Homo sapiens: one gene and its partners. The protein of the gene in region 1 purifies or fractionates together with the protein of each later gene. This does not show direct contact. Each region holds a gene or a part of one and is shown on either strand. Other genes may lie near its edges. The genes, in order: TAFA3, PPP4R2, UBP1 and PRMT7.

Region 1 (7,074 bases):
CTTGAATTCTTCACAACTGTCCTACAAAGCAACATTATTATTACCTGTTTTACAGATGAGAAAACCAAAGCTCAAAAAGCTAGGACATAACCTAAACAACCATCAGTAAAAGACTGGCTGAATACATCGTAAAGAGTCTGTACAAATGCAGTCCCATCCAGATAGCTGTAAAAAAACCAATGGGGAATTGCTTTATGTCCTGACACATGCAGTGATCTCCAGTGATAATCCACTGTTAAGGGGGAAAAAAAGCAAAGTGTAGAATGGTGTGTATACGATGTGTATAAGGCAGGCCAGGAGTGGTGGTTCATGCCTCTAATTCCAGCACTTTGGGAGGCCAAGGCAGGAGGATCACTTGAGGCCAGAAGTTCGAGACCAGCCTAGGCAACATAGCAAGACCCCATCTCTACAAAAAATTAAAAAATTAGTCAGGCATGGTGGTGCACACCTATAGTCCCAGCTACTCCAGAGGCTGAGGTGAGAGGATCAGGAGTTTGAGGCTGCAGTGATCTATGACTGTGCTACTGCACTCCAGCCTGGGCAACAGAGTGAGACCCTAGCTCAAAAATAAATAAAATAAAATGTGTATAAAGGAAGGATTATCTATGTTGCTCAGATATGCATAAACTAGCTTTGAAAAATATATTTTAAAACTAGTAATATTGTTTGCCATCCAAAAGGGAAACTGGTTGGTTGGGAGATGGAGGTAGAAGAGAGACTTTTTCTCCTGATTTATTTCTTGCTTTTTGAGCTGCCAACCACGGGAATGCAGTAGCACTTCAATTTAAACAGAATTTAAATTTAAAAAGGAAGAGGTGAAACCGAGGCTAACAGAAGTCAAATGACTTGCCCAAGGCCAGGCAGCATGTGGGTGGAAGAGTTCAGAGCCTAGAAGCCTGCCCTCTGCCCACTGCACCACCTTGCCTCTGTTCTCTTCCCCTTTCCTTTTCCTCTTTCATCGTTGATGGTTTGGGCCTCCCAAAGCTACCCTGAAGGGTAGGCTGGAAATGGAGGGAATCCTAAGGAAGCAAGAGGCACAGAGTAGCTAGGAGCTGCCCAGCCATTGAAGGGAGCAGGAGAAGTCCCAGGATGCAGCAAGGCCAAAAGCTCAGGGGTGAGCCTGGACCACTGCTGGGCCCCCACAAGTGCCAGTGCAGCTTTGGGAATACCAGAGGCCAAACCAACTGCTAGGACCCAGTTGCTCCTCAGATAGGGTACTTGATCTCTGTCCACCCCCGCTACTCCCCATCTTCAATGTCTCCCCACTTACCTTTTTGGGGATCTTTCAGTTTCTGTCTGTTCATCTGCTGTCCTCAGACTCACTCCACCTGGACAAGTAGGAAAGATTCATAGGGGGTTGCAAAGGATAGAGGGAGCCGATGGCTCTGCAGGGGGTGAAGGAGAACCTGGGAGAGGGCAAGGGGGTGGGCTGGGCACTGAAGTTCAGCCCAATTCTGAAGCTGTTCTCAGGTGCCAGGGCAGGGACAGTCTCTTCTGGCCTGGGAATCTGGAGGGGCTCTTGCAGACTCTGGGATCACACAGGGTGGTGAGCCTGAGAAGGGTGGCCTGAGGGAGTTTCTCTATCCCAAGAGTGAAGCAGGGTGATGGTAGGGAGGGGTCTAAGAATCACAGCTGTCATCTCTCTGGCCTTGGGAGGGAGCTGAGGGTCAAGGAAGGAGCAGAACCTGACAGATTCCTGCTGGAAGAGGCACGTGGGAGATACCTGAGGCCCTGATCCTCTTTGCTTCCACCTCCTACCCACTATGGCACCTGCTTCCTGGACTCACATGGAGCTGGCTTGGCTTAGCATCCCTTGCCCCCATTCCCACACCAGAGGGCTGGAATGGGGACACTCCAGGTCCCTGAGCCTTTGAAGGCCACAGCCTCCAATAGCTTTCCATTTCTCCCTAAGAACCTCTCTTCCCTCACCTCTCTAAAGGGAGGCAGAACTGAAACATATAGGATGGTGGGGCCCCGGAAGGACAGAGACCCCTGAGTCCTAGCTCCTAGGAGCGAGAGCATAAGGGGAATCTGGAGGAACACAGAGAAGAGGTGCCAGTTCCCAGGGGATGGGTGTGCTCCCTGGGCTGAGCTTCCCACTCTTCTAGATGTGCCTCTTTCCTGAGTAGAGATCTCTTCTCCCTGCCCTCCAGGAACCCTCCTTTTGACCATCACAAATGCAGCTTTGTCTTCTCTCAGGTGATCCTATTTCCCTCTGAGCTGCAACATCCTCCAATCCAACTCAGGCATCTCTCCTAGGAACCCCAAGGCCCAAAAGACCTTGGTGGGGTGGGGAGCAGAGGGGTGGGGGTGTTCATTTGGGCTCTCATCCCTGGCATTCTATTCCCTCCCTCCCTGAAACAGCTGGACATAGAAGCTTCTGGGATGTGTTTTTCGACTTCCATGCTCCTGCCTCAATTTCCTAGCCTATTTTTCCTAAATCCCAATCCAGGGGTTTAGTGAGGCTGAGTTAGCAGCCTGCATTACAAGGGTTTGAGGATGTGAACCACAAGAATCTTCAACCTTTCTTCACCTTCTCTCCCCACAAACCCCCCTAACGCCTACTCATTCCTCCACATTCTGAGCCCCCACACCTGGGACCTACCTGGTCCACGGTGATGCCCACTGGTTCGATCTGCTGGCCTGAAGTCTTCCTTGCCACTGAGCCAGGGACCAGCACTCCGAAAGACAGACTTTGGGAGGGAGCGGCCAGCTTGGGTGCTGTCTAGTCCGGAGCCCTGTCCCCTTCACCAAGTTGCTGCGCCCCCGGGACAGCGGGGTTCTGGTCAGGTTGGCATCATCCGCAGGGCGGGCCGGGCTCTGGGCACAGGGGAGCTCTGGGCCCGGCCCCGCCAGCTCTGCAGAACTCAGCCGGGTTTTTTCCAAGGTTCCTGCCGGCAGGCCGGGGAGCGCGCAGCCGCCGCCGCAACCGCCGCCTCGCCCCGGGCTACCCCCGCTCCTCCAGCCCCGCGTGGGCGCCGCCGCCTCCTTCGGGACAGTGCCAGGCGCTCGGCTGAACGGATGGGCACAGCCGAGACGCAGCGGCCCCTGGCGGCCGAGGGCAAGAGGAAGGGAGAGAGGACATCCGGCACCCGCAGGTTCAGTGAGGATGGACACCTCCGTGGTGGCAACTCAGAGGAGGTCCCTCAAAACCCTGAAGGTCTTGTGGCCCCCAGTGCCCTGGCTCAGGGGAGGTGGAGGTGCTGGGGGGAAAGGAGCTGGGAGTGAGGAGTGATTGACTAGACCCTCAGGGTTTTTGAGCTTTGAAGATTGCAGAACTGCATTGTCCAATACGGTAGCCACTAGTGGCATGTTGATATTTAAATTTAAATCTAAATTAATTAAATAAAACTTAAAATTCAGTTCCTCATTAGTAGGCACCATATTTCAAATGCTCAATAGCCACACGAAGATAGGGACTGCTGTATTGGACAGAGCAGATGTAGAACATTCCCGTCAGTGCACAAAGTTCTGTTCAGCAGCACTCTTCTAGAATGATATTTAGGAGGGAATAGTAAATATCTCTTCCTCTCCCAGGAGTGGTGCTCTCAGGGGCTGGGAGGGCTAGAGGAAGTATGAGGGTGTGGGCATTAGGCAGGAGGACAGTAGTAGGCTATGAATGGTCCCTATGGATGTTAAGTGTGAATACCAACATGGGAACCAAATTCTGAGACCTAGTTTCTTGTTTCTCTTTCTTTCTTCCTTCCTTCCTTCTCTTTCTTTCATTCTTTTTCTTTTCTTTTTTATTTATTTATTTTTTGGGGACAGGATCTCATCACTCTGTCACCCAGATCTTGGTTCATTGTAATCTCCACCTCCTGGGATCAAATGATCCTCCCATGTCAGCCACCTGAGTAGCTGGGACTATAGGGGTAGTCTGTAGTGCACTACCAAGCCAGGGTTAATTTTCTGTATTTTTTGTAGAGACAGGGTTTTGCTATGTTGCCCAGGCTGGTCTTGAACTCCTGGACTCAACTGATCCATCCACCATGGCCTCTCAAAGTGCTGGGATTACAGGTGTGAGCCACCACTCCTGGCCTGAGACCCAGTTTCTTTATCAGAAAAATTGTAATGTAATTAATTGCAACTGAATAATTCTTTACAGAGATCTGTTTTGGATGCGAATGTATTAGACAAATGAGAGGAAGTGGTGTTCTGTGAATTTGAAGGGACTTTCCTCTTAGTTTAAGAGGCCTTTGGGTTTAGGGTGATGTGAAGGGGAGAGACAAGGCAGAAGATGACCAGTTCTGGGCCCTGAGCCACCACTGTGGCCTGAGATAAAGGGGCCTGTCTTGAGGCTGTCCAGTCCCCCTCCTTGGTTCAAGCTTCACACTCCCCCAGCAGGGCCAGCCACTAAGCAGAGTCTCACTCTTCACAGAGAAAAACATCCCACAAGTCTGCTTCTTCATACCCCATCCCCTTTTCTCTCTCACTTTCCGCTGCCTCAGGGATGAGTAGAGGTGATGACCTCACCAGGTTCTGGGGCAGTCTGAGGATGGAGGAGGCATAATGGTGCCAGGAATAGGAGGTGAGAGGTTCAGGGAGGAGGAGCCTTAGGATTAGGCCATGGCTGGGGGCTGTTCTGGAGCCCCAGGGAGCTGTTATTCTCCCTGCTGATCATCTGGTGCTGGGGCTGGGGGGGTCTCTTGGCTTAGCTTTGCGGACAGCTTGCAGCCACACCATGGTGGGTGCTAGAAAGGGCAGGGAATAGGGAGCTGGGTGACACGAAGAAGTGGTAAGTAAACTGTCCCAGAAACACTGAATAATAAAAACAACCAGGAGTTATATTTGTTTCTTCAGTTGCTGGCTTGCTGCTGCTGTTATTTATCTGAGAGTTGGTTCCAGTTTTTCTCAAATAGCAGGGGAAAACCTATAGAAGCAGCCTGTTCTTTGTCCCCGTCTTCTTTTGCTGCTCTATTTGCCTTGGGGTCTGTTTTTTTTCTCTCCTGTGACTTCTTTTCCTCTGTCTCTCTCTGCCTAAAGCTCAGGTGTAACAAAGCAGGCATAGTAAGTCTACCAACCTGAAGGACCACTGTGGGATCTTTATTTGGAAGCTGCCAAGAAAGTCATCCCTTCTGGGGACACAGTTTAGCCTGGGGAACAAAGTGGTATGTGGTCAGGAAGCACCTGGCCGACAGAGCCCAGAAAAGTTCCAGCCGTGAACTGGGTGCCGTAGTCCCTGATGGCTACTTCCAACTTGCTTGAGGGCCACAACGGCGTTGTCCCCATTTGAGATGTGTGGATGGGTGGTGTCTGTGGATACCTAGCGATCAACTTTCTGATAGGAGGTTTAGAGACAGAGCTCTTGTGGCATCAGGTCAGTACCACCCTCTCCCAGAGGGGAGAAGTTAGGAAGAACGGGCAGCCAACCAGGCATTGGGCTCTGTCCTGGTCTTCCAGTGAGTGTGCTTTTACTCTTCTTAGGCAAGGGCTTAGCCTGGCCTCTGTCTCCCCCTGGCGGTAGACACAGAACTTGCTCAGCATTCCCGGACTGCTCTCAGCCCTGGCCCTAAGAGAAGGATGGGAGGGGAGGAACCCCCACTCCTCTCTCTGCCATTGATCTCCTTTCTAGCCCTTCCTCCCTGATCCGGAGAAGTAAGCTTGGTTCTTAAGACAGAGCAGGTTTGAATGTCAGGAGGCCGACATAGGTGTGAATCTTTCACTTGACCGTGTGACCTCCTGGGGCAAGTCACGGTAAAATGACAGGAAGCGTCCCGTCCTGCCTCATCCGTGAAACTGACAGAAAAAAAACCATCTTGAAGGATTGGTGTGCAGTATAAATAACCTAATACTGTATGGAACGTGCTTTGTAAAGGGTCTAGTATGCAGTACTTCTTCAATAAATAGTATTTGTTATGTTGTTATTATCCTATTAATAGCTTGTCCTGCTGTGGTCAGGGAAGGTCTGCATTGTGGGAAAGACCTGGGTTCTGAGAGAGAAAGGAGGGTGGGAGTAGCAACCGCTCTCCCAGATCTAGAGGTGGTCTTCACGGGGAACAGCGCATCAGGAGCCCAGGAATCTACCCCGGCTCCTGATTCCGGGGTGGTCGGCTGCAGCCTGCGTCATTAATCCCGCAACCCCACCCGGTACCAGCTTGCCCGCTCTCGCTCCAGCAGCCCCATCCAGAGGTGGTGTCACACCTGGCGCCTCATACCCAGCGGCTCCCAAGCGCCTGTTTTGCTCTGAGGTCATTAGCTCCATGGCTCTCTGGGCTGGCTGGCCACACCGAACCGAGAGCGAGGAGACCGCACCCCCTTGTCCCTCAGCCCCCGTCACAATGGAGACATTCTAGCTGTGTCTAATCTAGCGCACGGCTGAAATAAGGTTTCCTTCTCTCCGCCCCCTTCCCACAGCAACAGAACCTACCCCTAAGAAACGGAGGCGGGGCCAAGCCGGAATGGGGCGGGGCAGAGGCCGGGGACCCGTGGGCCGGTTCCTGGGGTGGCCCAGAGCAAGGGCAAGTTTCGCCCGGGACCCGCCCAGCTGGCCGGGAGCCAGTAGCAGGGAAGGGCCGGCTGGCGCGAGCACCGCCCACGCGGAGCCATGGGGGCGGGGCCTGGGCGGGGGCGGGGCCGCGGCCGAGGGCGGGGCAGGGAGGCAGCATGCTAAACCGGGTGCGCTCGGCCGTGGCGCACCTGGTGAGCTCCGGGGGCGCTCCGCCTCCGCGCCCCAAATCCCCGGACCTGCCCAACGCCGCCTCGGCGCCGCCCGCCGCCGCTCCAGAAGCGCCCAGGAGCCCTCCCGCGAAGGCTGGGAGCGGGAGCGCGACGCCCGCGAAGGCTGTTGAGGCTCGAGCGAGCTTCTCCAGACCGACCTTTCTGCAGCTGAGCCCCGGGGGGCTGCGACGCGCCGATGACCACGCGGGCCGGGCTGTGCAAAGCCCCCCGGACACGGGCCGCCGCCTGCCCTGGAGCACAGGCTACGCCGAGTGAGCGCCCCCTGGGGCACCCAAACCAGGATGGGGCTCCCACCCCTCTCCCCAGCTCCGCATCCCCGGCGCTAGGACGCGTTCCCCACGCCGCGTCCGGGCCAGGAGCTCCCTTTTCCGTGGACCTTTGCTATCCTCTGGTCTT
Region 2 (7,034 bases), on another chromosome or scaffold:
AATCATAAAATAGCCAACAGGTACTCATTGGAAATCACTGCAGACCAATTTGAGAACAGCAGCTGAAACTGAGATGGATTTTGCCAACTCTAGCAATGAGTGAATAGACTGCTCTGAGTTCGAAAAGACGAAGCAGGTCTTGCTCACTTGAGCTCTTGAAAGTGACCCAACAGTGCTCCAATCTAGAGGTAAGCCCCACAATGAGGAGAAAGAGTCAAGAGAAATGAAGACAAGGTTCAAAAAAAAGCAGAAGTGGAGAACACAGCCTGGAATTTCAGAATGCAAACTGCCGTGTTCTTAAAACACTTCACAAAACCAACGAGAGTGCTCCATGTAGTTAGAAAAGCTACTCTGGGCCAAGTGTGGTGGCTCACGCCTGTAATCCCAGCACTTTGGGAGGCCGAGGCAGGTGGATTACGAGGTCAGGAGTCAGCCTGGCCCATGTGGTAAAACCCCGTCTCTACTAAAAATACAAAAACTAGCCAGGCATGGTGGCGCGCGCCTGTGGCCCCAGCTACCAGGGAGGCTGAGACGGAAGAATAGCTTGAACCTGGAGGCAGAGGTTGCAGTGAGCCGAGATCATACCACTGTATTCCAGCCTGGGCAACAGGGCGACACTCCATCTCAAAAAAAAAAAAAAAAAAAAAAAAAAATTGTGGCATATTCATACGATGCATCTACTCAGAAATAAAAAGAAATACAAACTATGTTGAATAGAAGAAGCCAAAGAATACATACTGTATGGTTCCATTTACATAAAATTCTAGAACTCACAAACTAATCTACATTGACAAAAAGTTGCTTGGAGGGAAGGCAGCACACACAGGGAGGGAAGATTACAATGGGGCATGAGCAAACTTCTGGGAGTAATGAATGAACATGTTCACAATCTTGATTGTTGTGATGGTTTCCTGAGTGTAGATATGAAAACTTAGCAACCTGTACATTTCGAATAAATACAGTGTATTGTATGTCAATTATACCTCAATAACACTGATTTTTTTTTTTTTGCAGACAGAGTTTCACTCTTGTTGCCCAGACTGGAGTGCAACGACGTGAGCTCGGCTCACTGTAACCTCTGCCTCCCGGGATCAGGTGATTCTCCCGAGTAGCTGGGATTACAAGCATGCACCGCACCCAGCAAATTTTGTATTTTTAGTAGAGATGGGGTTTCTCCATGTTGGTCAGGCTGGTCTTGAACTCCCGACCTCAGGTGATCCGCCGGCCTCAGCCTCCCAAACTGCTGGGATTACAGGCGTGAGCCACCGCACCCGGCCCGTAACACTGCTTTTTAAAAAAGGACTCAAAAGAAGAATTCAAGACAAAATGATAAGTACTGAAGATATGCAAAGATGCAGCAATATAGTCTCCCTCCCCTCCCCAACAAAAAAACCAAAGACAACAATTCACTTTCTTGAAATATTTAATATTTTTTAAAAATTTAAAAATTCATATTGAAAGACTACACCACCAGTGTGTAGATAAGTGGATAAAAAAAAAAAAAAAGACCACACCATATACCTGAGTACAATGACTCCAAAATATCCAACATTGATTTTCAAAATGCTTTTAAAGATCTAGTCTATAAAAACCACTGTATTTTGGCCGGGCGCAGTGGCTCACACCTGTAATCCTGACACTTTGGGAGGCGAAGGCGGGGAGATCACGAGGTCAAGAGTTTGAGACCAGCCTGGCCAATATGGTGAAACCCCGTCTCTACTAAACATACAAAAATTAGCCAGGCATAGTGGTGGGCACCTGTAATGCCAGCTACTGGGAGGCGGAGATTGCGGTTAGCGGAGATGGCGCCACTGCACTCCAGCTTGGGCAACAGAGCAAGACTCCGACTCAAAACACACACACACACACACACACACACACACACACACACACACACACGACTCCGACTCAAAACACACAAACACACACACATGACTCCGACTCAAAACACACACACACAAACAAACAAACAAACACACACACACACACACACACACACCCCACACTGTATTTTAAAGAAAAAAATCTTTTAGGAAGGTAGGCAAAAAGATTGGGCAGTTTATAAGGTAAAAAAAATTATCATCAGATGTTAACAGCTGGCCAGGCATGGTGACACCTCTGTAATCCCTGCACTTTAAGAGGCCAACAAAGTGGGCAGATCACTTAAGCTCGGGAGTTCAAGCTCAGGAGACCAGCCTAAAAACATGGTGAAACCCCATCTCTACAGAAAACACAAAAATTAGCCAGGTGTGGTGGCATATACCTGTAGTCCCAGCTACCGGGAAGGATGAGGTGGGAAGACAGAGTTTACAGTGAACCAAGATTGCATCACTGCACTCCAACCGGGGCAAAAGAGCAAGACTCTGTCTCAAAAATAAATAGATTTTAACAGTTTTACTGGGGGGAAACAATAGAATTAACAAACTTAAGACACTCAAGGATAGAAAATGTGAACCAAAGATTTTACTTCCAGCCAAAGTGACCTTCAAGATTAAAGGGCACATGCCAGGCACGGTGGCTCATGCCTATAATTCCAGCTCTTAGGGAGGCACAGGCGGGAGGATAGCCTGAGCCCAGGAGTTTGAGACCTGCCTGGGCAATATAGCGAGACCCCATGCTCAACAAAAAGGGGAAATAAAAAGGGGGGCAAAAAAAAAAAAAGAATAAAAGGCACAGACAACATACAAGACATACACATAAGAACTCCAGGCCAGGCGCAGTGGCTCATGCCTGTAATCCCAACACTTTGGGAGGCCGAGACAGGCAGATCACTTGAAGTCAGGAAATTGAGACCAACCTGGCCAACACGATGAAACCCCATCTCTACTAAAAATACAAAAGTTAGGCCAGGCACAGTGGCTCACGCCTGTAATCCCAGCACTTTGGGAGGCCAAGACAGGCAGATCACCTGAGGTCAGGAGTTCGAGACCAGCCCAGCCATCACAGAGAAACCCCGTCTCAACTGAAAATACAAAAAAGTAGCCGGGCGTGGTGGCATGCACCTGTAATCCCAGATACTCAGGAGGCTGTGGCAGAAAAATCGCTTGAACCCAGGAGGTGGAGGTTGTAGTGAGTCAAGATCGCACCACTGCACTCCAGCCTGGGCAACAGAGCAAGACTCTGTCTCAAAAAAAAACAAAACAAAAAAAAACTCCAGAAATATTGTTTCAATTAGCCGCTTTTCAATAATCTATTAAAGAATAAGCTTCATTCAGACAACCAAACTGACGAGAGACAGAGAGAATACAATGACAATGACATAAGGACTGGTTGTAGGCATGAGATATATACCTACTGTAAAACTAAGATTGACAGTTAAAAGGGAAAGTCAGCCGGGGCAGTGACTATGCCCGTAATCCCAGCACCTTTGGAGGCAAAGGCAGGGGGAGGATCACTTGAGGCCAGGAGTTCGAGAACAGCCTGTTCAACACAGCGAAACCCCGTCTCTACTAAAAACACAAAAATTAGCCAGGCAATGGTGGCACGTGCCAGTAACCCCAGCTACTCAGGAGGCTGAGGCACAAGAATCACTTGAACCCAAGAGGCAGAGGTTGCGGTGAGCTGTGATCGCACCACTGCACTCCAGCCTGGGCAACAGAGTGAGACTCTGTCTCAAAAAAAAAAAACAAAAGGGAAAGTTACGTAATAGCAATATGCTCAGACAAGGGAGACAGAAAAACTTTTAAATGGGGGCTAGAAATAGAGAATATGTAAAAAAAAAAAAATTTAACATTCCTAGTAATTATATTGGTGGCAGTAATATTCGCATTATTATTTTAGACTTTCTGATGTGTAATGTTGGTTACAATCAGTAATTACAAGACATCCTGATTCTATCATACCCTGCCTGTGTTCTTGAGAGAACCAGGATTCCTGGTATGCAAAAAGTTATAAAAACCCTGGGCCAGGCGCAGTGGTTCACACCTGTAATCCCAGCACTTTGGGAGGCCAAGGTGGATGGATCACGAGGTCAGGAGATCGAGACCATCCTGGCTAACACAGTGAAACCCCATCTCTACTAAAAATACAAAAAAATTAGCCAGGCGTGGTGGCGCATGCCTGTAATCCCAGCTACTCACGAGGCTGAGGCAGGAAAATCGCTTGAACCCAGGAGGCAGAGGTTGTAGCGAGCCGAGATCGCGCCACTGCACTCCAGCCTGGGTGACAGAGCGAGACTCCGTCTCAAAAAAAAAAAAAAAAAAAAAAAAAGAAAAGAAAAGAAAAGAAAAGAAAAGAAAAATCCCTGTGCACTCCCATGTTTACTGCAGCACTATTCACAACAGCCAAAATATGAAACCAGCTCAGTGCAATGGCTCATGCTTTGTAATCTTTGCACTCTGGGAGGATTGCTTAAGGCCAGGAGTTGGAGATCAGCCTAGGCAACATAGCAAGACTTTGTCTCTACAAAAAAAATTATAAATTAGCCAGGCATCGTGGCATGTACCCTATCTGTAAGTCCTAGCTATTCAGGAGGCTGAGGCAAGAGGATCCCTTGAGCCTAAGAGTTTGAGGTTGCAGTGAGCTATGACTGAGTTGCTGCACTAAAGCCTGGGCAACAGCAAGACCTTGCCTCAAAAATACATTTTTTTAAAACAAGGAACCAACCTGAGTTCCCATCAATGGAAAAGAAAATGTGGTATATTATTCAGCAATAAAAAAGAATTAGATCCTGTCATTTGCAACAACATGGATGGAACTATAGGCCATTATGTTAAGTGAAGTTAAGTCAAGCACAGAAAGACAAACATCACGTTTTCACATATGTGGGAGCTACAACAGTGGATCTCACAAAGGTAAGAGTCTAAAGACTGATGATTACTAGAGACTGAGCAAGGAACAGGAGAGATAAAAGGGGAGAAAAAAGAATATACATGTATTTATTACCACCAAACTGTACACTTAAAATGCTAAAGATGGGGCCGGGGGCGATGGTTCACGCCTGTAATCCCAGCAGTTTGGGAGGCCAAGGCAGGTGGATCACGAGGTCAAGAGATAGAGATCATCCTGGCCAACATGGTGAAACCCTGTCTCTACTAAAAACACAATAATTAGTTGTGTGTGCCTGTAGTCCCAGCTACTCAGGAGGCTGAGGCAGGAGAATCGCTTGAACTCAGGAGGTGGGGGATGAAGTGAGCCGAGATCGCGCCACTACGATCCAGTGTGGCATAGGGCGAGACTCCATCTCAAAAAAATAAAAAAAAAGAAGAAAGAAAACTAAAATGGTAAAGATGGTAAATTACATAAGTGTGCAAGTGTGCATGTGTGTGTTTGAGACAAGGTCTTACTCTGTTGCCCAGACTGGAGTGCTGTGGCACAATCACGGCTCACTGCAGCCTCAACCTCCCAGGCTCAGGTGATCCTCCTACCTCCTCCTCCCAAGTAGCTGGGAGTAGCTGGGACTACAGGCGCATGCCACCACGTTAGGCTAATTTTTTATATTTTTTGTAAAGACGGGTTTCACCATGTTGCCCAGGCTGGTCTCGAACTCCTGGGCTCAAGTGACCCTGGGCCACCTGCCTCAGCCTCTCAAAGTTCTGGGATTACAGACATGAATCACTGCACCTGGCCAGTAAATTATATAAGTATATTTTACCTAAACAAAAAAAAAACTTTTTAAAACGCTGTATTCCTCATTCTGAATTGCAAGTCTTAGTATTTTATGTAGCTGAGTAATAATAAACTTCTCTACCACCAAGATTGTAGTCTTGAAATGCCATTTCCCACTAAAAGGCAGGTCTTCTTGAGAAATATCTGATTCACATCTGGGGCAGGAAATGAGCTTGGAACATATTCTTATACCAGAGAATAAGGATACTATCAAAAACTACTAAGGTCACGTCAAAAGGACTCTGGAGCCAACTGGAAAAGGCTACCACTGACCAAATGGGAGACAACTTGACCGTCAAAAAGGATAATAATTGCAACTCAAACCCATCAAATACCTTTAAATCCATGACTGAAATGCATCAAGTGTTTAAATTCATGATTGAAACACACCATATGTTCCTGTTTATTCAGCGCATACTATATATTTAGCATGATGTCAGAAACTACATTACCTTCAGAAGAGTGTATTCTTTCCAACATAAAAACAATTTTTTGAAGTGGCCAGAAACAATTCACCTGGGGATTAATTATTTTAGTTATATACATATATAGTTTCCCTCTTCACATCAATTTAGTATGTCTTGGCATCTTTCCTAACTTCCTACATCAGATGTTTACAGGTAATTTTAATAGACTAAGAAGTAAAAATGTTCAAATTTTTCCTACGGCCTCCTCCATTTTTCCTACAACCTCCTCCATTGTAAAAGCCTATACTTACAATTCTAAAACCTCTCTAAAGCTAAAAGCAAGTGTCAAATCAATTGTCTTTTGAAAAGAAAACTAAGCAGCCTGGGGGGTCACTGATTTTGATCCATAAACAGTTTCACATACTACTTCTGTTAATGCTTTCTTGCTATAATGCATCAGTGAAAATAAAAACAACTATGAAATTTTTTTTTGAGACAGAGTCTCACTCTGTCACTCAGGCTGCAGTACAGTGGCACCAACCATCATGGCTCACTGCAGCCTCAACCTCCCACATTCCAACAATCCTTCTGCCTCAGCCTCTGGAGAAGCTGGGACTATAGGCATGTACCAACACACTCAGGTAACTTAAATTTTTTGTCCTGAGCTCAAGTGACCCACTGTTTCCCAAAGTGCTGAGATACAGGCATGAGCCACCACATCCGGTGGAAATGCTTATCTTAAGCAATCCACCCATCCTAAAACATCAGAAAAGTCTAAATTGCTGTTCTTTAAATTTTCATTTTCATTCTCTCGTTACAATCTCACATACTAGACAAAGCTTAGTTTAGCCATAAATAGGTAGCAGAAACTCTGCAAATGTCAGTATCAAAGATATGCCATGTTGATAAAAAGAAATCAAAGCTTAAAGCTAAATGCATAAACACTGGCTGCTATTTACATAATAAAATAAAAAATATTTTCCAAATTCCATTGAATATAAGAATCTAACTACACCAATC
Region 3 (7,034 bases), on another chromosome or scaffold:
GTGTACATCCTACTATTAAAAAAACAAAGTAACAAATTTGCTGGTGCCAAAATTTATTTAGCCTGTTTCACTGGGACAAACTCACGTTCAATGCCACTCAGTATAATTTCAAGTCTGATAAGCATCTAAGTATTTTTACCCCGCTTCTAAAACCTGATGAGGAATTCAAAATAAGCACACAGCATTAAATGACATTTATTGTTCCATAAATCTTGAGACCCAAAAAGGAATGCTAAATAGACAAGCAAAACTTTTAAAACAAACGAGATAAACTCACTTCTTTCCCCAGTGACTGGTACAGAAAACATGTGGTCACACGAAAGCAAAGGGAAAAAGTCAGAAAGGAAAACTCTCTGCCTATAGGATCTATAGGAGTTACAGATATTTTCAAATCGATGATGAAAATAGATCGTGCTTCTTTGTAGCAAATAATTAACCCCCTTTATGAATAAAACATAAAATGTCAAAGCTTTTACTCACTGAAGTAGTTTGTCTTCTGGGAGAGATTTCAAACTCAAAATTACTCATTTCCTATTTTTTGCCTGAACACAATGAGGATCAAATAGTACATTCAAATCAGGACACCTGGGTATATGGACAAAGATATCCTACAATTAAAATGGAATAGAAGTTAAAAAAAAAATTCAGTCCCCTACACCACAGGCCTCAAACATGCTTGCTGATGGATTCTGGGAAGGTTTTGGATGAAGGACGGAGATATGGGAGGAAAGTGAGAAAACAGTGGATTCCCTTTGAAAAGTATGCTAGCAGACAAGCATTTGGTTTTATGAAAGAGGCACTCTTATAGAGAAAGAAGCTAGTATGTGGTGTATAAAAAGCCCCTAAATCATCACCAGAATGTCTATCCATGATTGTACTAAAGCTCAATATTTGAGAGGCTTAAGGGATTTGTATGGTACATTTTAGTGTTTGATTGATAACATCTAGTGTTTCCAGAAAAAAATTCATCTTGTTCATAATGAAGATCCCTTAACACCTAGTCAGAAGCTATCAACAATAATACTTTCTCCCCCTACTTGGGTCACCTATTTCCAATGTCTGGGGTAGGGCTTTAAAAATGTTTAATAGGATGGTGGGGGTGGGGGGTTAGGGTGGGGGTGGTCAGAGATGGAGGGAGAGAGGGAAGAAAATGAGAGAAAAACCACGAGTTTAAAAGGCAAGGAATCTCCAAAAATGAAAACCAGAAACTAAAATGCTAAAAATGGAAGCAGAAGCAAAAAAGTTTTTCAATAAATCTGTGACAAAGCCAAAACACAAAAGTCTTTGTACCTATTAGGATTTACACTGATCCTCTCACCAAGGTACTCCTGATAATGCAGTTTGCTTCAAGCCCATCTTCCTGGCTTGGATCTTCTCCAATCTGGCATGATCATATCAAACGTACACCCTCAGACATGATTTCTTCCAAGAAGGTGCCGAGCCTCTTACCTGACCACCAACGGCCACATCAGCACAACACAACTCTCCGCATACAGATTCACTGCTGGCCCCACAACAGCACTGTCCCCCATCTCCTCTCCAGGTCAGCATAAGGTTCAGGCAATAAAAGCCAAACTGGCACAGAAAGGTAAATGCCCACAGTAAGTTTCTACATTCATTTCCAAACCGCATACAGTGTAAAAAGACAGCAAAGGCTGCTTCTAGGAACTGTATTTACTGGCCTCTGCCAGAGCAGCAGGCAGCTATGCCTGCACCGTGGCCTCCAGAGCTGGATGCATGCTGTGCCGATGTGCTCACTCTCATGAGGATGCTTGGCTATGGCAGTGACAGTGAGGAGATTCACCTCTCATACAGCTCATTAGAAAGGTCATCTTGTGTTTTCAATATGAAACATTTCATATGGTAAAATCCAATCCCAAGACTTCTTGGATTCAGTCTTCACACACTTTTAAGCGTGACTATTTGGTACTGAATACAGTTCAGTCTATATAAGACATCACTTCAAAATTATGTGGATGCCATCACTACTTTCAGCTGCAGAAAAAGGAAAGACAGTATTTCTTCAGTCAGGCTTAGGAAATTAAGCCTATTAAATGGAAAACTCCCTGCCAACTACAACCTCCCTTCCCAATTCAGAGGTTACCTTTAAATGATTCTAGAGAAACAAGCAGATTAACTTGCTCTAGCTCCTCTTCCCCCAAAAAACTTCATGTACACATTCCCTTTTTAGACATTCTGCGAAGCCTGGCCCACTATCAACGCCCGCATTCCAACACTGTCTGCCAGTTCTGGGGGTAGGGGGACATCTATCAAGACACACAATAATAGTGCTGTCCATAAGGGGAGCAAGAGCTAGAAGGAGAACAGGTGAAATATACTGTGTCAGGGCAGAGGACCTGAGGGAGTAAATGCAAATGTGTACATCTACCTTTTCCAGAAAAATTTCTGAGCTACTCACAGAGATTTCAAACATTTTAAAACTGTATCATTCCTTTTGCCTAGTGTTTCTCAGTAAATAGTGAGAAGCAATATAGGCATTCATAAAAAAATGATTTTTCTCATGACGACAAAGTTTAAAAAAAAAAACAAAACAGTAAATTGAGATTAGAGGGGAGATCCTATGATTTCTAATACCAAAAAATGTCTGCTGGTTTCACAAAACAAAACTATGCAATTATAGTATATGTCTTCTTTTTCAGACAATGTCAGTTATGCAAGGTAAAAACTGTACTGCTGTGAAAACAAAAGACTGAGCAGAAGGGTACTAGGCTAAAGATGTTTCTGAAAGAGTGAACCAGTTCAGAGTTAAAACTCAGCCTTGCAGGTAACCTGATGGCATACGCAACATGTGAGGCGCAAAATAAAATCAGTATTTCAGTAGTCTGGGGACACCTGACACACATGACATCTCCCTCTTCTAGGGGCAGCTTTTGTGCTAAGACCGGATTTGGATCTTAGCTCACCTGACTTTTAAAACAGTCTATGAATGTATGATCTCTTCTCAAATAATTTTACATTTAGGAATCCCTCCTCTTTAATGTTGGAGCCACCTAAGCCTGGTCCTGGCTCTTTTCATATTCTCTCCCTAAATGACCTTAACAACTTCTACAGCTTTGAGTCACTGCTGATATGCTGAAGGTTTCCAAATTTACATCTCAAGCCCAGGCCTCTTCTCTGAGCCCCAGACTGGTAATAGTCAACTGCCTACTTGACATTTCTACATATCCAAAATCAAACTCTTGGTTGATTTACCCCAACCATACTTACCTCTTCAATGAGATCACCATCTGCCCAGTTACTTTCCACAGAAAATAAGGTGTCAGAACTATTCCTCCCTCAAAAGTGGAGCCCACTGGGACCCTGTCTATAAACGTGTAAGATACCATCACCTTTCACCTGGATATCTCCTGCCTCGTTTTGCCACCTTCTCATCTGTCTCCACAGAGTTGTGAAAGTGAAAGAAAAATCTAGTCACATTACTACTCCTTTGTTTAAACAACTTCAGTGACAACCCAATGCATTTCAAGTAAATCCGAACTACCATCATCATCCGGTCCCCGCATGCCAGACCCGGCCTCCTGCTTTGATTTGCCCTGATCCGCTCACCCTCACACACTGCATGGCACCTACATGGCCCACTGCCAGGCTTTCCAAGAAGCCAGGTGTTTTCTTTGCACACAGCCCCACGTTGCCTGGGGATGCTAATCCAATGGCCAGCTCCCGCTTCTTCTCATTCTTCAAGTCTCAGGATTAATAACACCTCCTCAGAGAAGCCTTGCCTTACAGTTTCATATTCCCCTCAACCCAGATCTCCCTTATCCATAAGTACCCCCACACTTTCCTGTTCCTTCATGGAACTTAACATATTGGGAATTTTGTGTATCTCTTGGCCAATTTTGGTTTGCTTTCCCCAATAGGAGTTTCATGGATTCTGTTTTATTCAATAGATCCACTGAGCGACAGAAGCACGGTGTCTGACACAAAGTGCTCAGTAAGACGTTGGCTGAATGAATTGAGATTTTTTTTTCCAGTCATCTAGAAAGACTGACTCCTCTTCCTTATATGCTAATTTCTGTTACAACCACTAGAAATATTCTCATTTATCAAACTTTCTTCTTAAAATGAGTAAAGCAATCATTTTAAAGAATAAACACGAGAGGCACTAATTAGAGGCACACACCATCTCTCATGATTCCAGCATTTTAAGACACACACACATGCAAAGTACCTTTTACTGTGGAGAATAAAAAACAACTCTCATCTTGAAAATTCTGAACCATCTGGAAGGATAAAGTAAATGCGTAAGTACAATTAAGATCCAACTGTCGTTTCTTAAAATGATTTTAAAACAGTAAATATTCTTCTCAAACAAACACAGGACTCAATGGCCAAAACGATAATTCATGAAGGCAGTGTGAGGCAGCAAAGATGCACACGTGCTGCACTGCCTTGTGTTCACTATGCCTGTCCATAATGGTCCCTGAGAGACCTGGTCAGTCACCCATGTGACCCACAGGGGCACATTCCCTGCCGGCTCCAGTGGATGATGACTCGAACAAAAATTGCATAAAGTGCTCTTCTATTATTACTTGCCACCAATCACTAGGGGAAAAATTATATATCTTACATGTTTTTTTAAATTAGTCATCAAATAATAGACAAAAGGAAAACACATCCAGTGACTCACCTCATAAAAAGGGCCAAAGCCTGCCACTATCCCTAGAGTGCCCCAGTGATTGGCTGCATCCTAAAGGGCTGGGGGGAGGCTAAGCCAGTTTTCCTTGGCTTGTATTCCATATTATCACTAGGATGCCTGAAACTCTTGGTTATAAGTTCTTCCAAAGTGATTCCCAACTCTCTGAAAATGATTCTCATAAGTATTTTCAAAAGAGGTCACAGAATTTTTCTACAGTTCTACAATTACATGTATAAAAGTAAATACCAGTCTGAAAAGGAAAAACAAATGATTTGATTTACCTGATCACTAACAAGAATGTGAATACCGGTGGGACCCTGTCTGTAAACCTGATTAATTTGGTGGAGAGGGATATTAAACACCAGCGCAAGTTTTCGAGCAACTTCTGAGGCAATCATTTCTTCCAAGTAGATTGCATGATAAACTGAAATTAAAAAAAAAAAAAGAAAAGCATTTTAACAGTAATCTTTGATCTGTTTTCTGCCTGATCTGTAGGATCTGTACGAAGGTCACACCTTTCAAAGTACCAAAAAAGTAAAAAAACATTTTAAATGGGAATAAACTATTTCTTTCCCCCATCTTACTACCTTGAAATCTTGAACTACCAATCTAAAACGTAAGAATACATTATTTATATCCACAAATATAATTTAATAAACATTAACAGAAATCCCTGGACAAAAAGATTTGAGGTTTGAATTTTTCTTCATATTTTTATTCAATGAATATAGTTTCATGTATTCAAAATTTAAAAACAGGAATTGGCTGCAAATGGACATGGGGGATCTTCTTGAAATAATGGAACTCAAACTGAATTTTGACAATGGCTGCCAAACTCTCTAAATTGGCTAAAATACCATTATATACTTACAATGGGAGGACTTTATGGTATGTAAATTATGCCTGAAGAAAGCTGTTTTTAAAAATAATATATACTTCATGTATTTCTAGCAATATACAAAAAGAACCCTAAAAGAGTCATAGTTCTTTTTGTTTATTTTTTTAAGACAGTGTCCTTTTTTGTTGCCCAGGCTGGAGTGCAGTGACACAATCACAGCTCACTGTAGCCTCTGCCTCCCAGGCTCAAGCAATCCTCCCACCTCAGCCTCCTAAGTAGCTGGGACTATGGTGGGGGCACACGCCACCATGCCTGGCTAATTTTTATTATTATTATTATTATTATTATTATTATTATTTGTAGAGACAGGGTTTCACCATGTTGCCCAAGCTGTCTCAAACTCCTGGGCTCACGCAGTCTGCCCAGTTAGGCCTCCCAAAGTGCTGGGATTACAGGCGTGAGCCAGCACGCCCAGTTAAGCATTATAGTTTTTGATCCAGTAATCCTACTACTAGGAATTTATCCTAAGGAATAAAAGCTATCTGTATATGCCCCTCCCCCACAAAAAATTTTAAATAAAAGATACTATATGAAAAGCTAATATAAACAATGAAGTGTGATGCTTCCTTACAGAAAGCCCCAGCCACATTCCAGTGTTCTGCATTTTTGCTACACAGAACTTATCAGCAGACATCTGCACAGTGCACATCTGTAGTGAGTCTCACTCTTGTACGTCCTGCTCAATTACTGATTAAAGCCAGACATGGATCAGGAATATCATTACTGAGAACTTTGCTTCCCCAAACAAGGGGTCTGTGAGTATAGAAACCCAGAATTTTCCATTACATAAAAGAAGCTGGAACTAAAATTACAGTAAGAATATAGAAATGATCTAGAGCAGGTGTCACCAAACCACAGCCCATATGGGCCAATTCCTGCCCTCCACTTGTTTTTTTTTTTTTTTTTTTTAAATAAAGTTTTACTGGAACAGCCTTATCTACAATTTACATATTGTCTATGGCTATTTTAGCACTACAATCACAGAGTTGAATGTGAGAGACCCTATGTATGATCTAAAGAGATGGAAATATTTACTACCTGACCTTTTACAGAAAAAGTTTGCTGATTATGGGAAAATATCCAATATTTCCCCATATCCCTCCACAAACACTCATGTTTGAGAATACACCTTCCAAAATATTATAATCTTGGCCATATCTAAGTGATGTATAAGCTCTTGATGATACATGGAGATCTCCTTTAAATTTTTATCCTTTAAGAATTTGTATACTTAATCTCAAAATTCAGAGCTTTTGAAGTCAAAATAATACCAAATAGAAAAGTTCACAGTAGTGATGCTATCCTTCCAATTTTTCAGTAAAATTCAAACCACAAGACATTTTTCAGAGCTCTACCTATTCTTAGGGCAAATAACTGCATCTCTGAATGCCATTAACACATCTTTTTTTTTTTAAAGTTCTGAGCATGTTGCCTTTGTTCTACTTCAGAGTATGGAAAGAAGGAAATGTTACCATATAT
Region 4 (7,034 bases), on another chromosome or scaffold:
TGATCCGCCCACCTTGGCCTCCTAAAGTGCTGGGATTACAGGTGTGAGCTACTGCGCCTGGCCTATTTTTTTGTTTATTTTTAGAAACAGGGTCTCGTTATGTCACCCAGGCTGTAGTGCAGTGGCTATGAACAGCCTCAATCATTGGGCACTGCAGCCTTGAACTCCTTAGCTCAAGAGATCCTCTTGCCTCAGCAGAACTACAATACAAGCATCCGTCGCTGCACCTGGCCACTTTATTTTAATAGAGTTTCAAGCTGTTATTCTCTAGTGCTGCAGAAAAAAGTCTCAGAGAAAGATGTTCTCAGACCTAAAAATGCTCCAGTAGTTAGCTGCTGGGAACAGGCCCCCAAATCTGGCCAAAAACAGGCCCCAAAACTGGTCATAAACAAATCTCTGCAGCACTGTGACATGCTCGTTGATGGCTATGATGCCCACACTGAAGGTCGTGGGTTTACTGGAATGAGGGCAAGGAATACCTGGCCCACCCAGGGCGGCTTTCGCTTAAGGCGTTCCTGAACCACAAACAATAGCATGAGTGATCTGTGCCTTAAGGACATGTTCCTGCTGCAAATAACTAGCCAGAGCCCATCCCTTTGTTTCCCGTTTTAATCTATAATCTATAGGAACAATGCTTATCACTGGCTTGCTGTCAATAAATATGTAGGTAAAGTTCTGTTCGTGGCTGTCAGCTCTGAAGGCTGTCAGCCCCCCAATTCCCACTCTGCACTCTATATTTCTGTGTGTGTGTCTTTAATTCCTCTAGCGCCACTGGGTTAGGGTCTCCACGACCGAGCTGGTCTCGGCAGTTAGCCCTGTCACAGTAATTCCACAGCCACTAGCATCTTGATCTTGCTATACACTACACATTTTCCTCCTCAGGAAAAACTCAGACTCAATCTGCCTAATACTTGACCTAACCTGGCCTACATCTCTGCCTGGAGATAACCACTGATGCGGTATTAGGGAGAGCAGCCGGGGAAAGAGAAGCACTCACATACACCCACTGTATATGTGACAGGTACCCCACTGGGCACGTTCACTTAACATCATCAGGGAAAACTAAAGAGTTCACCAATACCGTAGTAAAGGGAGGAGAATCACTTCTCCATATTTCCTACTGCAGTAATTCACACACTGAAAACCCTCAGGCGGGGTCGGGATGAGCACCCAGAACTAGGCAGGCCCTGCCACGCTTTCTGGGAATTCAAGGGGACAGCTAAGGAGCTCACATTAAAACAGAGGCCCTCCAGCCTTGGGTCAACACTAGAATCACTAGAAAGCTTACCTGAAATGCAGAGTCCCAGAACACACACACACACACACACACACACACACTCTCACTCTTATTGAGAAGGCTGGGCTAATGTGCTCCAGGCAATTGTGCCACAGGTGGTCCACATTCCACACTTTGAAGAGCGGTGCACTGAAAGAAGGGGGTTCTTTTTTTTTTTTTTTTAATGGCACATCAAGGTTTTATATCTGAAGCCAGCTATGGATGCTTAGCTGAAATGTAGTCCTTTCTACCTCTGCTCACTATTTAAAAGGCATCTCACTCACCACCTTCCTGGCCTCTTCACACTTACTGCCCACCACTCCACTGACATCACTCTCGGTAACCACCACCAGCTCACTCCTGCAGCTGATGTCAGTCATCAGTATCTGGGACTTCCCAGTGCCTCTGACCTTGCTAGACACACTCCCTCTTTCTTCCTTTCCATGCTGGCTATCTCCCTTGCCCTTCTTTGCCTCCTCAGCTATTCCGGGATTCCTTCTTCAGCCCTCTACCTTTCACATTCCACACCCCCTTGAGAGACTGCAACCTCTCCCAGTTTCAGTTCCAACAACTACAAATTCTGTCTCCAGACCCAAAATTCTATCTGCCATTGGCATCTCTATGTGGATGTCCAAACCTAAACGCCTAATCTCCATCGTGTTCCCCTCCCCACACCACCCATTCCTCCCTTGCAGGCCCCATCCACTTTGTCATTCTAACCAGAAGTCTTGGTGCTTCTTGAATCTTCTCTCTCCCTCCATCATATCCAGTGAGTTACCAAACTCAAGTTCCCCCGAGCTGTCTCCTCTGGGACTATGCAGCTCTGGGACTACAATATCCCCAAATGCTCTCCTCTCCACACCGCTCTCAGTGAGTGTTCCAAAATGCAATCCAATCCTCTTTCTCTCCTGTTTAATATATCACTCAGAAAATAACGTCCAGGCCTGACACTGTGGCTCACACCTGTAATCCCAGCACTTTGGGAGGCAGAGGCAGGTGGATCACCTGAGGTCAGAAGTTCAAGACCAGCCTGGCCAACAGGTGAAACCAAGTCTCTACTAAAAACACAAATATTAGCCAGGTGTGGTGGCAGATGCCTGTAATCCCAGTTACCTAAGAGGCTGAGGCAAGAGAATCCCTTGAACCTGGGAGGCAGAGATTGCAGTGAGCCGAGACTGCGCCACTGCACTCCAGCCAAGGCAACAGAGTAAGACTCCATCTGAACAATAAAACAAGAAAATAATGTCCAAAATGTTTAGAAATATTTTAAGACCTGGGCAGGTGCAGTGGCTCACGCCTGTAATCCCAGCTCTTTGGGAGGCCGAGGCGGGCGGATCACAAGGTCAGGAGATCAAGATCATCCTGGCTAACACGGTGAAACCCCGTCTCTATTAAAAATACAAAAAATTAGCCGGGCGTGGCAGCGGGCACCTGTAGTCCCAGCTACTCAAGAGGCTGAGGCGGGAGAATGGCGTGAACCCAGGAGGCGGAGCTTGCAGTGAGCAGAGATCGTGCCACTGCACTTTAGCCTGGGAAACAGAGCGAGACTCTGTCTCAAAAAAAAAAAAAGAAAAAAAAGTAAATATTTTAAGCCCTAATTCTGCACCAGATACTGTATTACATTTAATCATCAAACAATTCTAAGATAATTGTATTATACTGTGAGATAATGTATTACTATATTGAAGTATATATTATTTTATATTAAGGCTCAGAGAAGTAACTTGGCCAAGAGAGTAAAGAAGTGGCAAAGCTTGGACTTAAACTCATGTTCCTCTTCCTGCATTTTGCTACCACCCTTTACAAAATGACCCCGCGTATGCTTTCGGCAGCCTCTCTTACCATAGTACTTTTGTACCACACTCCAGCTGCACTAAACTGCTAGCTGCTCCCCAGAATAGCCCATCTGTGTGTGTGTGGTTTTTTTTCTTTTTTTTTTTTTGAGACAGAGTTTAGCTCTTGTTGCCCAGGCTGGAATGCAATGGCACGATCTCGGCTCATGGCAACCTCCGCCTCCCAGGTTCAAGTGATTCTCCTGCCTCAGCCTCCCGAGCAGCTGGGATTACAGGCATGCATGCGCCACCACACCTGGCTAATTTTGTATTTTTAGTAGAGACAGGGTTTCTCCATGTTGGTCAGGCTGGTCTCGAACTCCCGACCTCAGGTGATCCGCCCGCCTTGGTCTCCCAAAGTGCTGGGATTACAGGCATGAGCCACTGTGCCCAGCCTGTTTTTGGTCTTTGTTTGTTTGTGAGACAGTGTTTTACTATGTTGAACTCGTGGGCATAAGCAATCCTCCTGCCTTGGCCTCCCAAGTAGCTGGGACTACAGGTGTAGGCCACTGCACCCAGCCACAATCTGGCTCATCTGAAAGCTTACCTGTAATCCCTGCTGCTCAAACTTCACCTTCTCTTCCTTTAGAACTGAGAAATTATTCAAACATTACCTCCCACCCCAAGTTCAGCTGGTTCTTGCTGCTTCCATGACCTCTTGTGCCTTTATCTCACTGTGCTGTAATTTTTTTTTTTTTTTTTTTGAGACAGAGTCTCACTCTGTTACCCAGGCTGGAGTGCAGTGGCACAACCTTGGCTCACTGCAACCTCCACCTCCCGAGTTCAAGTGATTTTCCTGCCTCAGCCTCCCGAGTACCTGGGATTACAGGCGCCCACCACCACTCCCAGCTAATTTTTTTTTATAGAGACGGGGTTTCACCGTGTTGGCCAGGCTGGTCTCGAACTCCTGACCCTCAAGTGATCAGCCGCCACCACCCCCTCCACCGCCCGCCCGCCCGCCCTTTGCCTCCCAAAGTGCTGGGATTACGGGCATGAGCCACCGTGCCTGGCTTTTGTGCTGTAATTTTGTATGTGCCTGTCTCTTCCACAAAACTGCATGGTCCTTGAAGATGAGAACAGGATCTTCTTCATCTGGTATCCACAGCCTTAGCACAATGCTGGCACACTGAATGCACTTAATGATTGCTACATAACAACTCACATACTTTTTTTTTGAGACAGAGTTTCGCTCTTGTTGCCCAGGCTGGAGTGCAATGGCTCGATCTCGGCTCAACACAACCTCTGCCTCCCAGGCTCAAGTGATTCTCCTGCCTCAGCCTCTCAAGTAAGCTGGGATTACAGGCATGAGCCACCATGCCCAGCTAATTTTGTATTTTTAGTAGAAACGGGGTTTCTCCATGTTGGTCAGGCTGGTCTCGAACTCCTGACCTCAGGTGATCTGGCCACCTCGGCCTCCCAAAGTGCTAGGATTAGAGGCGTGAGCCACTGCGCCTGGCCAACAACTCACATACTTTTAAATATTTCTTCTAAGGGAAAAAAAAAACCATTTTCATTTTTTTCATTCAAAAGAATTTAACCATATGATGAACATGTCACCATTTCAGTAAGGCAAGTAAATGATTCAACTTCATCAACACTACTGAGGCTTGGGTTTTCTTTGCTCCGTTAAACAGATGCTGAGGCTCTGCTAAGGCTGCTACATAATGTCTGACTCTCCAAACAGGCATGATTTTGCCTAACTGCTACATATACCTACCTGGCTGAGCAGACCTGCTCAGGACCAACACCAGCCCTCATCATAAGCACTGGGTGACAGCCTAGCCCACGCTCAGACTGGAGCCCAAGGCATCTGCTTTGAGATCAAGTGCCCCACCCAGCTGCAGCCTGCTGTAAACCAACCCAGTACCTTGCAATCTCCTGGTGGTAATCATAGTGTTCATCCTCCTCCAGCCACTCCACAGACCCCGTGGTCGGATTGGCCCGACTGCAGAAGATCTTCATGGTGCCCACTAGCTCCCCAGTTTTAGCACAGAAAAGCAGCCTTGCCAGTTGAGTTCTTGTGGACAAGTCTGACTGTCAGAAATCTATTAACATCAGAAGGAAACAGGAGGTATATAAACAAACGAACAGAAAAAAAATCTATTAACAGCACAATGCCCCAAAATGTGGAGGGGGGAAGGGGAGACAAAAGCGGGGAAAAAAATCAAGAAACTGACAAAAATGTCAAAGCCACTGATAGTATTTGTTAATCGATATTGTAAATGTTTCCAGCAGGAGTTACTTGGTTTTATATTCAGCATATAACATTAAAAAACTACAACAGATTCATACAGATGTCTGGAAACTTCAGCAGGCTTCGGTGCTTCCAAAAGGTTCAAATGAGCCTCACAAGTTCATCTAGGTGCAGCCCTCAAGGCTAGGAGAAGAGATGGGGTACTGTTAAAGAAGTGCCACCAATACTGCCTTCGTATGCTGAACCCTTAGCTTAAGGAAAAATATGAAGATAGAGCAAGTCAAACCAGGAAAACTTTCATCTAAACAATAAATTACAGTCACACATAAACCTAAAAATGGATAATCCCAGGAATATAATGATGAGCAAAAACAGCAAATCACACAACACATGCAATACGATTCCATTTCTATGAAATTTATAGCTATGCAAAATGGAGTGATACGTTCTTCAGGGATCACACTAAAAAGCATAGCAAGGAATCAGGATAGTTAACTCCTAAAAGAGAAGGGAAAGAGATGGGATCAAGGAGGGGTACGCAGTGGACTTCAAAAGTATTGTTCTTTTTCTTAAATTGGGTGGTGGGAACATAAATGTTCACGATATTAGCATTCTTTTTCTTTTTTTTTTTTTTTAAAAGATGGGGTCTCGTTATGTTGCCCAGGCTGGACTCAAACTCCTGGGCTCAAGCATTCTTCCTGCCTCAGCCTCTCCAGTAGTTGGGACTACAAGTGAGTGCCCCACACCCAGCTAATACTAGCATTCCTTATGCTTCATTATTTTTTATAGTGATTACTTCTTATCTATTCAAATTTTAATTTTAAAAGCAATTTTTAAAAACCCTCCATCATCTAAAAAAATTTTGCTTCAAACAAGTAAAATGTCACCAGATTCACGTCTTGTATGGCCTGTCTCCCCAAAGAGATCTATTTCTGGGAGGGAGAGAAACACCACCGCTCAAAGTCTAAAGGCACTCCTCAGCAGGTGTGGGCTCTCCCAATACCCATCCCTCTTACCATGCAGAAAGCAATAGGTGTTCTACACTGCCCTTCCTTTCTTGTTAAACATTGGTGCATCTTCAGGAAAACTTAGAAAGAATGCCTACTCCACATATCCCTAAACATTCCTATGGCATTTTATTGGCCAGAGTTTTTTTTCTTTTGAAGTTATCTAGAGTAAGTAAACATGGAATTCTTACACAAATAGATGAGAAACAGGCTGGGCACGGTGGCTCACACCTGTAATCCCAGCACTTTGGGAGGCCAAGGCAGGCGGATCACCTGAGGTCAGGAGTTCAAGACCAGCCTTGCCAACATGGCGAAACCCTCGTCTCTACTAAAAATACAAAAATTAGCCAGACATGGTGGCGCACGTCTGTATTCCCAGCTACTCAGGAGGCTGAGGCAGGAGAATCACTTGAATCCAGGAGGCGGAGGTTGCAGTGAGCTGAGACCGCACCACTGCACTCCAGCCTGGGCAACAGAGTAAGACTCCGTCACCAAAACAAACAAACAAAAAGCAAATAGATTAGAAACAATCTTCCCTGAACAAACTCAGGCCGGCAGTCAGGTTCAAAGTAGACAATTTGTCCAGGTAAAACTCTACTACTAAAATCTCAGCATACCTATCCCCTAGTCTAATGATTTTCAAACTTTCTGATAACCCCAGTAAGAAATATACTTTAAAATGAGACTCAATACACATACCTGCATGTACGCATACAACTAAATGT

The links.
Region 2: the proteins of TAFA3 (region 1) and PPP4R2 purify together in Homo sapiens (affinity purification with mass spectrometry; 2 studies listed by BioGRID and IntAct, with this or other methods). This does not show direct contact.
Region 3: the proteins of TAFA3 (region 1) and UBP1 purify together in Homo sapiens (affinity purification with mass spectrometry; 2 studies listed by BioGRID and IntAct, with this or other methods). This does not show direct contact.
Region 4: the proteins of TAFA3 (region 1) and PRMT7 purify together in Homo sapiens (affinity purification with mass spectrometry; 2 studies listed by BioGRID and IntAct, with this or other methods). This does not show direct contact.

The regions. Positions count from the first base shown.
Region 1 is NC_000001.11:112,714,831-112,721,904, reverse strand, and holds the start of TAFA3 (chemokine-like protein TAFA-3 isoform 1 precursor), read right to left. Parts: upstream 3,001-7,074; 5' UTR 2,606-3,000; intron 1,329-2,605; 5' UTR 1,271-1,328; intron 1-1,270. Other genes in the region: PPM1J (protein phosphatase 1J), read left to right, coding at 6,604-6,929. UniProt on the Homo sapiens protein: Plays a role in the regulation of microglia polarization.
Region 2 is NC_000003.12:72,999,810-73,006,843, reverse strand, and holds part of PPP4R2 (serine/threonine-protein phosphatase 4 regulatory subunit 2), read right to left. Parts: intron 1-7,034. UniProt on the Homo sapiens protein: Regulatory subunit of serine/threonine-protein phosphatase 4 (PP4). May regulate the activity of PPP4C at centrosomal microtubule organizing centers.
Region 3 is NC_000003.12:33,388,374-33,395,407, forward strand, and holds part of UBP1 (upstream-binding protein 1), read right to left. Parts: intron 5,082-7,034; coding exon 4,939-5,081; intron 4,242-4,938; coding exon 4,190-4,241; intron 1,996-4,189; coding exon 1,958-1,995; 3' UTR 1-1,957. UniProt on the Homo sapiens protein: Functions as a transcriptional activator in a promoter context-dependent manner. Modulates the placental expression of CYP11A1. Involved in regulation of the alpha-globin gene in erythroid cells.
Region 4 is NC_000016.10:68,314,016-68,321,049, reverse strand, and holds part of PRMT7 (protein arginine N-methyltransferase 7), read right to left. Parts: intron 5,154-7,034; 5' UTR 5,071-5,153; coding exon 4,976-5,070; intron 1-4,975. UniProt on the Homo sapiens protein: Arginine methyltransferase that can both catalyze the formation of omega-N monomethylarginine (MMA) and symmetrical dimethylarginine (sDMA), with a preference for the formation of MMA.